2 separate regions of the Homo sapiens genome follow, and region 2 is linked to region 1. The links come from fine-mapping of genetic effects on gene expression. Tissue or cell type: whole blood. Region 1 holds a variant in brackets; the other region holds the start of a gene. All regions are shown on one strand. Distances are from middle to middle.

Evidence for each region. PIP is the estimated chance that this variant, and not a neighbour inherited with it, causes the effect.
Region 2: it holds the start of WAPL, and the variant in region 1 is fine-mapped to the expression of WAPL in whole blood (INTERVAL, PIP above 0.99).

Annotation. Positions count from the first base shown.
Region 1 is chr10:86,424,314-86,432,505 of GRCh38, reverse strand. No RefSeq gene overlaps it. Among named protein-coding and RNA genes, the nearest start is that of GRID1, 62 kb to the right of the region's middle. RefSeq lists an enhancer at 872-1,041. The variant A/TA (reference allele first, on the strand shown) is at 4,357.
Region 2 is chr10:86,517,432-86,525,606 of GRCh38, reverse strand. It overlaps WAPL (WAPL cohesin release factor), which reads left to right and starts at 3,815. Exons shown (of 19, transcript NM_015045.5): 1 at 3,815-4,242; 2 at 7,516-8,036. The coding sequence starts at 7,538. WAPL-DT (WAPL divergent transcript) reads right to left here and starts at 3,660. Exons shown (of 2, transcript NR_186498.1): 1 at 3,198-3,660; 2 at 506-3,098. RefSeq lists silencers at 3,202-3,761, 3,902-4,321.

The sequences.
Region 1 (8,192 bases):
GAAGTCAATACAGATCTAGAAAACTTTGAAAAATAATACACTTCCTAGTAGTCTTTGAAGGGGAATTAGAAAGTTTAATGATCTGAATGACAAAATGCAACATATCAAAATTTGTGGAATACACTTAAAGCAGTGCTTAGAGGAAAATTAAGAAGGCTTAAATTATCCTAATTTCTATGTGAAGCTAGATGAACAATTAAACCTAAAGTAAGTTCAAGGAAAAAAATATGAGCAGAAATTAATATAATAAAAGACAAGTAATAGAAAAATTTTACCAAAGCCAAAAGATGATTCTTTGTAGTTAATAAAACTGATAAATCCTTAGCAAGACTAATCAAGAAAGAAAAAAACACAAATTATCAACGTCAGAAATAAAAGATGGAATACAGATGCTATAGGCCTAAAAGGATAAATAATTTTAAAATTTTTATAATTAAAATATTTTTATTACTTAATAGAGACAAGGTCTTACTCTGTTGCTCAGGCTGGTCTTGAACTACTTAGCTCTGATCCTCCTGCCTTGGTTTCCCAAAGTGCAAGCATTACAGACGTGAGCCACCACACCCGGTCAGATAAAGAATTTTATGAATAATTTAAGCCAGTAAATTTTACAAATTAAATGAACGAATTCCTTGCAAAACAAACTTACCAAAACTAATTCAAGAAACAGAAAGCCTCATTAGCCCTATATTCAAAACAATTGAATTTGTACTTTAAAATCTACATATAAGTCCTGTCCCAGAAGACTTCATTGATGCATTACATGAAACACAAGGAAGAATTAATATCCATTTACACAGAAAGTAGAGAAGAGAATACTTACCAAATCAGTGTATAAGCCTTACCTATATATCTCCAATACAAAGCGCAAAGATATTGCAAGGAAAAAAAATAGCAACATTTTTATAGATGCAAAATATTTAACAAAGTATTACAAGATCAAATCCATTACTATGTAAAAAGTATAATACATCACAACAAGGTATTTATCAAAGGAGTGTAAAATTGGTTTATTATCCTTTAGATACAGAAAAACCATTTTCCAAAATGCAACACCTATTCATGGTTAAGAAACAAGCAACAACGCAGTGGCTCACGCCTGTAATCCCAGCACTTTGGGAGGCCAAGGCAGGTGGATTGCTTGAGCACAGGAGTTTGAGACCAGCCTGGGCAAATGGCGAAACCCTGTCTCTATAAAAAATACAAAATTAGCCAGGTGTGGTAGTGTGCGCCTGTGGTCCCAGCTACTAGCAGCTACTAAGGCAGGAGAATCTCATGAGCACAGGAGGTCGAGGCTGCAGTGAGGTGTGATTGCACCACTGCCCTACAGCCTGGGTGACAGAATGAGACCCTGTCTCAAAAAAAGAGAAAGAAATAGGAACTAATCTTGATCCCCGCCCTCAGAAGAGAGCAGGTATGAAAAGTGTACAATAATTGAACTTGATGAGTCACTGAATGCTTTCCTCTGAAGATCAAAAACAAGGCAGAAATTTCCAATATCAACACTTCTACTTTGTATAAAAGTAGAATTGACAAGCTGATTCTAAAATTCACCTGGAAATGCAAAGGACATAAAATAGTAAAAATAATCTTGAAGAATAACAAAGCTGGAGGACATACACTATTGACCTTCTAGTTTCACGATAAAACCACAATGGTCAAGACCATGTATTCGCATGAGGACAAGATCAATACAATGAAGGCAGAGCCTAGAAATAGGTCAACAGATACACGGTCAACTGATTTTTGACAGAGGCACCAGAGCAATTTAATGTAGAAATTAAAATATTTTTAACAAATGGTTATGAAACAAGTGAATACCCATATTTAAAAAAAAAATCTTGACCCTTACCTTATGCTAAACATAAAAATTAATTCCATATGGATCATAGATCTCAATGTAAAAGCTAAAACTATAAAGCTACTACAAAAAGAAAGAACGAGGCCAGGCGTGGTGGCTCAGGCCTGTAATCCCAGCACTTTGGGAGGCTGAGGCAGGCAGATTGCCTGAGCTCAGGTGTTCGAGACCAGCCTGGGCAACATGATGAAACCCCGTCTCTACTAAAACACAAAAAATTAGCTGAGCGTGACAGCCTGTGCCTGTAGTCCCAGCTACTTGGGAGGCTAAGGTGGAAGGATCACCTGAGCCCAGGAGATGGAGGCTGCAGTGAGTGGAGATCATGCCACTGTACTCCAGCCTGGGAGATAGAGCCAGACCTCGTCTCAAAAATAAAATAAAAATTGGCCAGGCGTGGTGGCTCATGCCTGTAATCCCAGCACTTTGGGAGGCTGAGGCAGGTGGATCACGAGGTCAGGAGTTCAAGGACCAGCCTGACCAACATGGTGAAACCCCATCTCTACTAAAAATACAAAAATTCTTCGGGCGTGATGGCAGATGCCTGTAATCCCAGCTACTTAGGAAGCTGAGGCAGGAGAATCACTGGAACCCCGGAGGCAGAGGTTGCAGTGAGCCGAGATCGTGCCATTGCACTCCAGGCTGGGTGACAGAGGGAGACTCCCATCTCAAAAATAAATAAATAAATAAAATAAAAAGTGGCCAAGTGTGGTGGCTCATGCCTGTAATCCTAGAACTTTGGGAGGCCGAGGCAGGTGGATCACGAGGTCAGGAGATTGAGATCATCCCGGCCAACATGGTGAAACCCCGTTTCTACTAAAAATACAAAAATTAGCTGGGTGTGGTGGCATGCACCTGTAATCCCAGCTACTGGGGAGGCTGAGACAGGAGAATTGCTTGAACCCGGGAGGCAGAGGTTGCAGTGAGCAGAGATCTTGCCACTGCACTCCAGCCTGGAGACAGAGTGAGACTCCATCTCAAAAAAAAAAAAAAAAAAAAAAGATAAAAAAACCCATAAATTACAATGAGATGCTATTGTGTATTCAGTAGAATGGCCAGTTCAAAAGATGACAGCACCAAATGGTGGCACATCAACAACTGGAACTTTTTTTTAATGCTGTTGGGAATGTAAAATCATAACACCACTTTGGACGAGTTTTGTCAATTCCTTGTGAGAATAAAGTTATGCCTGTCTGGGCTGAGTGCACTGGCTCATGCCTGCAATCCCAGCACTTTGGGAGGCCGTGGCAGGAGGATCACTTGAGGGCAAGAGTTCAAAACCAGCCTGGGTAATGTGGTGAGACCTCATCTTTGCCAATGAATAGATAGATAGATAGATAGATAGATAGATTGATAGATAGATAGATAGATAAAAGCTGGGCATAGTGGCACATGCCTGTAGTCCCATCTGAGGCAGGAGGATTGCTTGAGCCCAGGAGGTTGAAGCTACAATAAGCCATGATTGTACCACTGCACTCCAGCCTGGGCCACAGCTAAAATATATATATATATATATTTTATATTTTATATATATAATATATATTATATTTTATATATTTATATATAATATATATTATATTTTATATATTTATATATAAAATATATATAATATATATTATATATATATTTATCTGTTCTTCAACCTAACAATTTCACTTTATCCAGAAGAAATGAAAATATTCAACAGAAAAAGTTGTGGAAAATGTTCACAGTCATTTTATCAACAAATAGCCAAACACTGGAAACAACTCAAATGTCCGTCCGCAGACAATAAACAAATTGATAGATTTATGCAATAATATACTACTTAGTAATAAAGAGGAACGAATTACTTTTTAAATCAACAACATGAAGAAATTTCACATTCATAACGCTCAGTGGAAGAAGCTGAATTTTCAAAATACATATAATACAGCCATGTGCAGTGGCTCACACCTGTAATCCCAGTGCTTTGGGAGGCCAAGGTGGGAGGATCGCTTGAGACCACGAGTTTGAGACCTATAATATGCATCAATTTATACAAAATTGTAGAACAGGCAATGTTATCTAAGGTGAAAACATTCAGAACAATTTATTTAAAAGACAGTAATAAGCAGTTAAATGAAAACCTCTATATGCTTAGAAATGTAAAAAACACAACCTGATAACTCATGGGTTAAATCAATTATAATTTATTTTTATTTTTATTTTTTTTTTTTGAGACGGAGTCTTGCTCAGTCACCCAGGCTGGAGAGCGGTGGTATGATCTTGGCTCACTGCAACCTCCAACTCCTGGGTTCAAGTGATTCTCCTGCCTCACCCTCCCGAGTAGCTGGGATTACAGGTGCATGCCATCATGCCCAGTTAATTTTTGTATTGTTAGTAGAGACAGGGTTTCACAGGTTGGCCAGGCTGGTCTCAAACTCCTGACCTCAAATGATCCACCCGCCTCAGCCTCCCAAAGTGCTGGGATTACTGGCGTGAGCCACCGCACCTGGCCATAATTTTTTTTTTTTTTTTTT[A/TA]AATTAGAACTAGGCTGGTGACAGTGGGTCACACCTGTAATCTCAGCACTTTTAGGAGGCTGAGGCGGGTGGATCACCTCAGCCCAGGAGTTCGAGACCATCCCGGGGAACATGGCAAAACCCCATCTCTATGAAAAATACAAAATTAGCCAAGTGTGGTGGCACGCGCCTGTAATCCCAGCTACTTGATAGGCTGAGCGGGGAGGATCACTTGAACCCAGGGGTCGAAGATTGCAGTGAGCCCTGATTGAGCCACTGCACTCCAGCCTAGGTGAAAGAGTGAGACCCTGTCTCAAAAAAATAAAAATTTTAATTTAAAAAATAAATTAGAACTGGATGACAATGAAAATAAAATATATCAAAAGTCATGGTGCAGGGCACGGTGGCTCACGCCTGTAATCCCAGCACTTTGGGAGGCTGAGGCGGGCAGATCACTTGAGGTCAGGAGTTCGAGACCAGCCTGGTCAACACGGTGAAACCCTGTCTCTACTAAAAATACAAAATTAGCCGGGCGTGGTGGCACATGCCTGTAATCCCAGCTACTTGGGAGGCTGAGGCAGGAGAATCGCTTGAACCCCGGAGGCAGAGGTTGCAGTGAGCCAAGATCGTGCCATTGCACTTCAGTTTGGGCAACAAGAACAAAACTCCGTTTCAAAAAACAAAAAAAAAAGTTACGGGATACAGCAAAATTTTTATCTTTAAATGCTTATATTTGAAAGACAGAATGACTAAAATTGTAAAGTACATATTATTCATCTTAATGACAGAGTAAGAGCAATAGAATAAACTCTTAATAAGTAGAAGGAAGAAGATAATGGCAAATTTTTTAAAATTGGTGAAAAATGGATTCTTTGAAAAGTCTAAATTTTGAGTACACTCACCAAGAAGGAGGGAATAAAATACAAATTACAAAAGTAAGTATAAAAATCAATACATGTGGGCCAGGCGTGGTGGCTCACGCCTGTAATCCCAGCACTTTGGGAGGCTGAGGCGGGCAGATCACAAGCTTGGGAGTTCGAGACCAGCCTGGCTAACATGGTGAAACCCTGTTTCTACTAAAACTACAAAAAATTAGCCAGGCGTGGTGGTGCATGCCTGTAATCCCAGCTACTTGGGAGGCTGAGGCAGGAGAATTGCTTGAACCCAGGAGGCAGAGGTTGCAGTGAGCCGAGATTGCCCCATTGCTCTCCAGCTTGGGCAACAAGAGCGAAACTCCATTTCAAAAGAAAAAAAAATCAATACATGCTATCCTGTATGAAATAAATAAATATTAAAAAGACAATATATGAGTACAGAAACACTAGAGATTAAAAAAGTTTTAACTAACTACTCTGAATAAATGCATGCTAATGAATTTATGACTTAAATGAAGTGGGCAAATTCCTAGAATAATATAGCAAAAAAGAAAAACCTGGCCAGATGTGGTGGCTCATGCCTGTAATACCAGCACTTTGGGAGGCTGAGGTTGGTGAATCACATGAGATCAGGAGTTCGAGACGAGTCTGGGCAACGTGGTGAAACTCTGTCTCTACTAAAAATACAAAAATTAGCTTCACGTGGTGGCACACGCCTGTAATCCCAACTAGCTGGGAGGCTGAGGCACAAGAATCCCTTGAACCTGGGATGTAGAGTCTGCAGTGAGCCAAGATCATGCCACAGCACTCCAGCCTGGGTAACAGAGCAAGACTGTCTCAAAAAAGAAAAAAAAAAAAAAACCCGACACAAAAAGGGATAGAGTTTTACAATTTCTAAAGAAATTGAATCAGTATTATTAAAAGATTTCTAAACACACAGGACACAAAGTCCATGGTTTTGAAAGTTATTTCCACTAAATTATCAAGAAATAATTTCAATCTTATACAAATTCTTCTGGAGCATTGAAAAAGAGGGAACTCAGAAACTCCCCTAAATATTCAATGAAGGCTATATAACGATAAAAATAAGAAAAGGACAAGAAGAGAAAGACAAATTTCAGGGTAATCTCCTTAATAACCATAGATAATAAATTCCTTTACAATATGTTAGAAAATTGAGTCCAGAAATATATAAAAAGCTAATACAATGTCCAAGTTGAATTTATCACAGAATGCAGTGGTGAATTAACATTAGAATAATCAACAAATGTAACTTATCACATAAGTGAGGAAAATCATGAGGCCTTCTCAGTGACTGCACAAAAAGCATTTAATTGGCCGGGCATGGTGGCTCACGCCTGTAATCCCAGCACTTTGGGAGGCTGAGGCGGGTGGATCACCTGAGGTCAGGAGTTGGAGACCAGCCTGGCCAACCTGGCGAAACCCCATCTCTACTAAAAATACAAAAATTAGCCGGGCATGGTGGCGCACGCCTGTAATGCCAGCTACTCGGGAGGCTGAGGCAGGAGTATCGCTTGGACCTGGGAGGTGGAGGTTGCGGTGAACTGAGATTGTGCCACTGCACTCCAGCCTGGGCAACAGAGTAAGACTCCAGTTCAAAAAAAAAAAAAAAAAAAGTAGGCAAAATATTTAAACAAGTACTTCACAAAAGAAAATATAAGCAAGATAAATAAGTGCAAGAAAAAATCCTAAACATCATTAGTCTTTAGGGAAATAAAGATTAAAACCATGATAGTGTATAACTCATACATATTAGAATGTCTAAAATTAAAAGACTGACCACACCAAGCGTTGGCAAAAAGGTGAAGCAACTGGAACTTTCTCTTTTTAATTTTTAATTTTCATGGATACATATTAGTTTTACATATTTATGGGGTACATGTGATATTTTGATACAAGCGTACACTGTGTAATGACCAAATCAAAGTAATTAGAATATCCATCAACTCAAACATTTAGCATTGCTTTGTGCTGGGAACATTCCAAATCTACTCTTGTAGTTATTTTGAAATATACAATAAATTATTGTTAATGATAGTCGCCCTATTGTGCTACCAAACACTCGATCTTATTCCTACAATCTAACTATATTTTTGCAGCACTAATCACATGCTTTAGTTCCATCACCCATTAACCAGCTCCTTTTTATCCTCCCTGAATGCTATGCTTCCCAGCATCTAGTAGCCATCATTCTACTATCTACCTCCAAGAGATCAATTTTCTTAGCTCCCCCATCAGTGAGAACATGAGACACTTGTCTTTCTGTGCCTGGCTTATTTCACTTAACATAATGTTCTCTAGTTCCAGCCATGTTGTTGCAAGGGACAGGATTTTATTTATTTTTTTATTATTATTTTTTCGAGACAGAGTCTTGCTCTGTTGCCAAGGCTGGAATTCAGTGATGTGATCACAGCTCACTGCAGTCTTGACCTCCCAGGCTCAAGCTATCCTCCTGCCTCACCCTCCCAAAGTATTGGGATTACAGGTGTGAACCACCGTTCCTGGCAATATTATTCTTTTCTATGGCTGAATAATATTCCACTGTGTATCTATACCACATTTTCTTTTTCTTTTCTTTTTTTCTTTTTTCTTTTTTTTTTTTTTGAGATGGAGTCTCACTCTGTCACCCAGGCTGAGTGCAGTGGCATGATCTCAGCTCACTGCAACCTCTGCCTCCCCGGTCCAAGCGAGTCTCCTGCCTCAGCCTCCTCAGTAGCTGGGATTACAGGTGCGTGCCACCACACCAGGCTAATTTTTGTATTTTTAGTAGAGATGAGGTTTCTCCGTGTTGGCCAGGCTGGTCTTGAACTCCTGATCTCAAGTGATCCGCTCGCCTTGGCCCTGAAAAGTGCTGGGATTACGGGCGTGAGCCACTGTGCCTGGCCACCACCTTTCTTTATCCATTTATCCGTTGGTAGACACAGTGGAATTGTTGATTCCATATCTTGGCTATTGTGAACA
Region 2 (8,175 bases), 93 kb before region 1:
TTACATGAAAGAAGGAAATAAATGGGTGCTTTTATTCAACAAATATTTATTGAGCACCTACTCTTGTGCCAGGCAGTCTTCTAGGTGCTAGGGTTGCAGCAGAAAACAAGACAGGCAGAGATCCCTGCCTTCAGAGGGAGCACAACATTTAAGATAAACATGCAAAATGCCTGATATGTTAGATGGGAAGATAAATGCCCTTAAAGAAAGTAAAGCAGGGACAGTGACATTTAGGAGTGAGGATGTTGCAACAATTTAAGATAGGTTGGTCAGGGGAGATTCATTGAAAAGTCCCATCTGAGTGAAAACCTAGAGGAGAGAATTGAAGCAGGCTGGTATCTGGGGGAGTTGTAGGCAGAGGGAATAGGAAATACAAAGGCCCTAAGGTGGGGAAACAGCAAGGAGTCAGGTGTGGGCAGAGCAGAAAGTTGGGGCTGCATGAGCAAAGGGCAGGGCCTGGCCCACATCTCGTAGAGCTTTGTAATATAACCACAACATGCAAGTGTACAATTTAACATTTTATTCCACATCCGATGGCAAAGAAAAATTGACTGCTACCAATATGGTAGTTTCTGACCTGTAGTTCCCTAAATAGAATTCTATAAGTTGTAATACACTTTACTACACATTATCAGAAAAAGACTAAAAGTTCTATTTAGTAACTCCAATTCTGACAGTTCTCATGTCTGGGCTAGAACAAGGGCATGGCAATGGCAGAACAGATGTCTTCTATTTTCTTTGCAGGATTTTCTTTTTTCAGAGGAAAGTACAGGTATGGGCCCACTCAAGTGGAGCTCCAGGTTAGGGGGTTCTGTCCTCACCCAGGCAGCACACAGGAGGGCAGAGGCCCCTCCTAAGGGTACTACAAACTTGGCTCTGATCCATGATTTCAGTTTCTGACAAACACAACATTCAGTGGGGGAAAGAAAATCAGGTATCTGAGAGCTTGCACACAGGCATTCTAGCAAAACCAAAAGCACCTACTGGCTACTTGATGTTAGTGTGAAGATTCTCATGAAATGGAGACAACCATTCTAGGGGTTGAGGTGGCCAGGGGGATGGAGCCTGAGCTGAGAGAACTAAGAAAACAAAAACAATACAACAAAAAGCTGTTCAGCCATGTGTTACCCACACTGGAGTTCTGTTTGCTCATTCTGGTGTGGAACCCAGGGCCCTGGTAAGGGAATGAGGGGACTTCAGGGCATTTGCTTGCCTCAGTGGAAGCAGGGAGGTAAGGGGTTAAGGTGGTGGTACAGCCTGCAGGGCCAGGAGTCTGAACTCCCTCCAGGAGGGGCCCGAGGGGTGTCTTTAGTGTGAGCCACACAAGGGTACAGAGCCCAGAAGAGCTCTGCTTAATATTCATATACTAAGCTTCCACAGACTAAATACACACACACACACACACACACACACACACTCACACACACTTTACTTCTCAAATCATGTACCACTTTCTACCAGATTCAAGAACACCAAGAAGTACTAAAGGGTATCCAACCGTCAAGAAAAAGTTTGACTCCCTCATTAGTTGTAACATACAAGTCTTCCCATTTCCTTACTTGTAAGATAGAGTAATGGACTGGGAAGCAGACAAGGCCCCTGAACAGCCTAGCATCTTACCTGATGCATAGGAGGTTCTTAATCATCTCCCTTCCTCTCCCTCATCCTAACGAAAAATACTAGATTGCTGTCAAATGCTATGGGTATACTTTAAATCAGTGCTTGTCAAACTTTAATGTGCAGCCCAATCAGCTGGGGGAATCCTGTTAAAATGCAGGTTCTGATTCAGTGGAGCTGGGGTGAGGGATAGGAATTATGCGTTCCTTACAGGCTTCCAGGTGATGCTACACTGCTGATTGGGGATCATTCTTTGAGTGGCAAGAATTTGACACTACTAAGTTTCATTACTTAACACAACCATCACATAAAAGCCCTCAAAAGGCACCAGTCTAAACAATAAGCCCTTCCACTTCAGCCTCATGCAGGCACTGACCCTGCCAAGTGTCCAGCACTAGAGAGGCCAGGCATAATAGACATATCCTTTGGTCTTGGGAGGATCACGACACCCTCCTACAGGAAGATCTTGCAATTGTTTCCTCACCTCTTCTGGTTTTTTGATCTTACCTTTTGCCTCTGATGATAATTACCCTTTAATTACCACCCACCACCTTGTCATCTAAATAATTATAGTAAGTGCAGCCTGCACCTCTGCCAGAAGATCTTTAAACAAAATGATAAAAACAAGTTCCTAAACTGCCAATTAAAAAAAGAGACAAAACTGACCCAAATAAAACAGTCATGTGCATCCCACCCACAGTGGAAGACATGGACTTGTTTTTCATATAAACTACAGAAGAAGTTGATTTATTTTGAAACAAGAAAAAGTACTGATTCAGTATTTAGGAAATTGTAAATGTCAGAATATAAATTCTGCAGTCAGGTAGGCAAAACAATCCAACCACACTAAAATCCACCTTAAATTCCTCTTGGGAAGAGCTGCAGGGTCTCTGAACTATTTTTCCTTTATTTGGAGTTTCCCCGATTATACCGGAGGGAGCTGGATAACTTCTGGGTGCATTAAAAGCAAATTATCCATTTGTGGGAGAAGGGCGGGCTTCTCACTGAAAGCAATTAGTAGTTTTCTAATTTCCCAGGTGGGTCTCCATTAACCGCCTAACAAACACCAAGGCTGTCGGAGTCCGACGAATCATGCACCTCTCTTAGGGGGAACTGGTTGCGCTACTCTTTAGAACGCTGTTTTCCCATGGTAGCCTTAAAAAAAACTTACCAATTTTCTGAATTAGGTAACACATTGAATGGGAAAAACCTAAGATAGCACAAAAAGGCGTACAGCGAAAAATTAAGACTCCTTCCTCCCGTCATCCGCCACCTCACTGTCCTCCCTAGAGGCAATCGCTGGTTCACTTCTTTAAACTTTTTATTATGGAAAATTTCAGATACACAAGTAAAGAGACTGTATGATGAGCACATATGCTCGCATCACGCAGCTTCAACGATGAAAAACGTTCTGCCAGCTTGTTTTATTCCTCTCCCCCAGTTTTCATAGGCGTATTTTACAGTCCTGACACCAGATCACTCTGTCAACACATCAGTAGGTCTTAAAAAAAAAAAAACAAAAAACCATAACCACATTACCGTTACCACACCCAACAAAGTTAATGATAATTGCTCAATACCATCCAATATTCTCGGGGCCACTTTCAATCGGTGAGGGGCAGACGGACTTAGAGGAAGGACTGCAGGGCTGGAGGGGCGCGAAAAAGCGAGGGGCGACGCTGCTCGTGGCCTCGGGTGTCCGGCGCCTCGCGGTCCCCGCCATCGTCACCTACGCCGGGCCAGGACCGACCAGGCCAGGTCGAGGGCGGCTCTTGACCACGCGCCCCCTGCCTCCCAGCTCCCGGGCGGCGGCCTCCGCAGGCCCGGCACAGCTGCACAGCCCGCGGTCCCCAGGCACCGGCGGGTCCCTGGAGGGGAAGCGATTGATACAGCTGCCTGCACTGCGCCACCCGCCCGGCTGCCCATCTCCGTGGCACCTGCGTCTCCCGGCTGGGCCGGGAGCTAGAAGTGGCTGCCGAGACCGGGAGGGCCCGGCCAGTCGCCCGCTCCCGCTCCCGCGCCTGGTCCTCGGCCCGCGACCTCGCGGACCTGGACTACAACTCCCGTCGGGCTCCGCGGCCGGGCCAATGGCGGGCGCCGGAGCATGCGGGGCGCAGCGCCTGCGCGGCGGTTTGAGTAAGCGGCTGCGCGATTGGCTGCGGGGTCGGGCGGCCGCGCGGGGACTGTGGGAAGCGGAGTGACGGAGCGAGCGGCTGTTGGAGGAAGGAGGTGGGGGCCGGGAGCGCAAATGGCGTTGAGATGGTTCAGGGCCCTGTTCAAACTCCAGCACTGACCATTCACCGGCGGAAGCGGCGGCGCAGGAGGCGGCGGCGGCCCAGCGGGGGCACACAGCAGGCTCTGTTACCAGCTCCAGCAGTGGCGGCCAGCGAGAGCTAGGCCTGGGCCCGGCCGGCGGCGCTCGAGGCGGGGAGGGAAGTTGCGGGGCCGCCGCTCCTGCCCCCCCAACCGGGCTTCCTATTTACCGAAAGCAGAGTCCCTCGCCTCTCTCGGCTCTCACCTGCCGGCCCTGCTCTCCCGCGCGAGGGTTCCGCGCCCGCCCGCGGGCCGTAGGGAGCGGGAGAGGCGGAGGCGGCCCGTGGCCAAAGCACCCGCCAGGCTCCGAGGGTAAGTGAGGTGTCGGGCGGCCGCCTAGGCCGGGAGGGAGCCGGGAGGGTGGGGGAGGCAGAGGCTGGGAGCGGGCGGTGGAAGTCTCACTGCCTCGCCCACCGGGCCGCTGAGGAAGTTGGGCAGGGGAATGACCTGAGGAACTCTTTTTTTCCCCTTTTATTTTCCTTTTTCGGAGTTCTTTTTCGGGCGACTGCTGATTGACTTAGCTCCCCAAACCCAGTCAAGTGTGTTGATTTCAGCCCCGAGTCCTTTCCCGTGGTTTCATCCGCCTCTGGCCGCCACTGGGGCCTTGCACTGCCTTAAGGATTCGGTGGCAGAGGCTTCCGGGGCGTCGAAAGTGACCTCCCTTTCCTGGGCGGCGCGGGTTGGGAGGAGAAAAGTTGCATTGAGTGTCTAGTCCGAGGGGTCCATCGCGCCCACTGCCCGTGGCGCCCCGGCTGTCCCCAGGTGAGGATTTCTGGTTAGTCAGGTTCGTCCCGTCCGCTTTCCATCTTTAATGGAAGCCCTTAAAGCCTTTGGGGATCGGGAAGACGCTAGATTAGGGTGGGAGTGAAGTATAAAGGCTTTTTGCTTTTTTTTTTTTTTTTTTTTTTTTAAATCACAGCGCACTTCTCTCAAAATTCGACCTGATTTTGGGCTAGGGCAAAAGCCGAACGACCGAAAAGACTTAGTCGTCAATCATTCTTTCCTTTTTAGTTAGGACAGTCTTTGGAGTTTAAAGGTTGAGCAAGATTGTGTACTTGAAACACTTAAAATTTAACTTCAAGGACGTCTGCACACTTATTTTGGAATCTGTAGTGCTTTACGCTTAGATAATGCCATTGCAAAGACATTTTATTGTGGGAAACGATAAAGGCAATCAGGAGGAGATATTATATAATGAACTTCTCTGTACCCATCGCTTGGATTTAGCAGTGACTATTAAACAAATTTATTTCATCTATACACTTCTCATTCCTTAATGTTGGAAAATCGCTGACGTTATTTCATCAGTATTTCACTATGTATTTGTAAAAGACGTGGTCTTTTGGCACAAAATTATTATTATCATTATTATTATTATTTTGAGACGGAGTTTCGCCCTTGTTGCCCAGGCTGGAGTGCAGTGGCGCGATCTCAGCTCACCGCAACCTCCGCCTCCCAGGTTCAATTGATTCTCCTGCCCCAGCCTCCGGAGTAGCTGGGATTACAGGCATGCGCCACCACGCCCGGCTAATTTTCTATTTTTAGTAGAAACGTGGTTTCTCCATGTTGGTCAGGCTGGTCTCGAACTCCTGGCCTCAGGTGATCTGCCCGTCTTGGCTTCCCAGAGTGCTGGAATTACAGGCGTGACCTGCCGCCCCCAGCCAGCACAAAATTATTTTTTATCACATAAAATAATTAAGTCCTTAGTGTCAGGTATTCATCTGAAGACTTCAAACTTTCAACAGTGAATGCTTTGTGGTTATAGAACCATTTTAACAGTTTTTCTGATGTTGGCATAAAGGAACTCAAGTCTAGATTTTTGGTTTGGCCTTTGGTTAGTATTTTTAGATGATTAGCACATAAGTGAATCCAAAACATTCCATCTTTGTTGGTGTGTATGTGTACGTACACTTACAGACCTGCAGGATCTCAGCTTTACATTCTTGAAGGAACAGAGAATCGATTTTTATTTTGTTGTCCGTGGTAGTTGCCCAGTATCCTGTTTTGTTTAGGCTGTACTTAACAAGAAAGACAGTAAGACTTGTTAGTGTTAGAGCTGCAGTGGAAGATGAAATACATCTCCTTCAGGAACACTGTTTTCTCTTAACGCAGATATGTATGATGACTAAATTATTACCTTGTCAAATTAAAATTGGGTTCTCACCAAACATGGGGGGGGGTCTACTACTGAATTTATATAAAACTCAGACAGTGACTCATTATAAATGGTAAGAATTTAAGTTAATCAAGGGAAAACAAGTGTAGATCAAAACATATTCAAAAGTATAGGTCAAATATAATTTCAATTCTTGTAGCTTTCAAAGTAATGATTTTTCATTCCTTAGGCCCTTGTTCACTTTTTAAAGTTATATTCGATGTATTCATGTTTGAACTGTAGAAAGGTCAAAGTGTTAGACAAACGGTTACTGATTGATCATGTTTAAAAAGTACTATAACTTTTTAATAGGCACAGAACTAATGCAAGTAACTTGTTTTAAAAAATGTTTGACTCTTGATTTACTGCCCTAAAGATTTTTTTTTTTGTCCTGTGAAGTAGATAAATCAGGTGAATCGATTTGCCATTTATAAATTGAAAAGGAAAATAAAAGTTGTATGTTTCTATGTCTGTATTAATCCATGAAACAGTGTAATATGCTGGAGCTCACTAGCCCCAGAAAATATAACTCAGCAAATGAGCACAGCACTATCGGGACAAGGCAGATAGGATAAGGATAGTTTCTTTCCCTAGGGAGATGACCATCTAAGGAACATTTTTAAAGTCACAGCGCAAATTACATTACACCAAGAAGCAGAATCTTCAAGATTGGGTTAAAAGCTGCAGGTTGTAAAACATGAGAAAAAGCACCATTTTGGGGACCTTTTTTCTCATGTGAATTAGTGCCATGAAATTTCAAAGAACTAAATTTAATCAAGTATTGGATATTTCTGAGGCCCTGAAAAAAACTAACATTCTGTGCTTAAGATTTTATATAAGTAATTACCCTATACAGGTTATCATTATATCACTGCAACCTCCATCTCCTGAGTTCAAGCGGTTCTTCTGCTCCAGCTTCTCAAGTAGCTGGGATTACAGGTGCGTGCCACCACTCCCAGCTAATTTTTGTATTTTTAGTAGAGATGGGGTTTCACCGTGTTGGGCAGGCTGGTCTCAAACTCCTGGCCTCAAGTGAGCTGCCTGCCTCGGCCTCCCAGCCTCTATACAGATAATTTTTTAAGGTAAAAATGATGTTTATAAGAATAGTAAATTAATTCATTTGGAACTTAATATGCTTCATTTTAAGTTAGCTTTATGGATATCGTATTATAAGTTGGTTAATCATTAAGTTTTTTTACTTTGTAAGTAGCGTAGGAATATGTACTCATTGTGGAGGAAAATTGACATGGAAGCATGTAGGGTAATAAATCAGCCTTTCTTTATACCCCTTCCTCATATTTGTTTATTTAAAAGTCTGTGTGGTGAGTGTCAAAAGTCATGAGGGAAGAATCCCTAGGTTTTTATTTTTATATGCACTGTTTAACACTTGTATTTGATGATTATATGTTTTCTTAAATTTTTTTTCACAGAGAATATGAAACTGGTGTCAAAATGACATCCAGATTTGGGAAAACATACAGTAGGAAAGGTGGAAATGGCAGTTCAAAATTCGATGAAGTCTTTTCCAACAAACGGACTACCCTTAGCACAAAATGGGGAGAGACCACATTTATGGCTAAATTAGGGCAGAAGAGGCCCAATTTCAAACCAGATATCCAAGAAATTCCGAAGAAACCTAAAGTGGAAGAAGAAAGTACTGGAGATCCTTTTGGATTTGATAGTGATGATGAGTCTCTACCAGTTTCTTCAAAGAATTTAGCCCAGGTTAAGTGTTCCTCTTATTCAGAATCTAGTGAAGCTGCTCAGTTGGAAGAGGTCACTTCAGTACTTGAAGCTAATAGCAAAATTAGTCATGTGGTCGTTGAAGACACTGTCGTTTCTGATAAATGCTTCCCTTTGGAGGACACTTTACTTGGGAAAGAAAAGAGCACAAACCGAATTGTAGAAGATGATGCAAGCATAAGTAGCTGTAATAAATTAATAACTTCAGGTAAGTTTTGATTTTCTTTATTCTCCGCCAAGAGAGCTTTGTGCAACCAATTTATTTAAATGATTTAAATTCTAAAATATATATTGTGTTTTCTTTCTGCACTTATGATACATGGGGACCATTGATAGTTTTGTAAAAG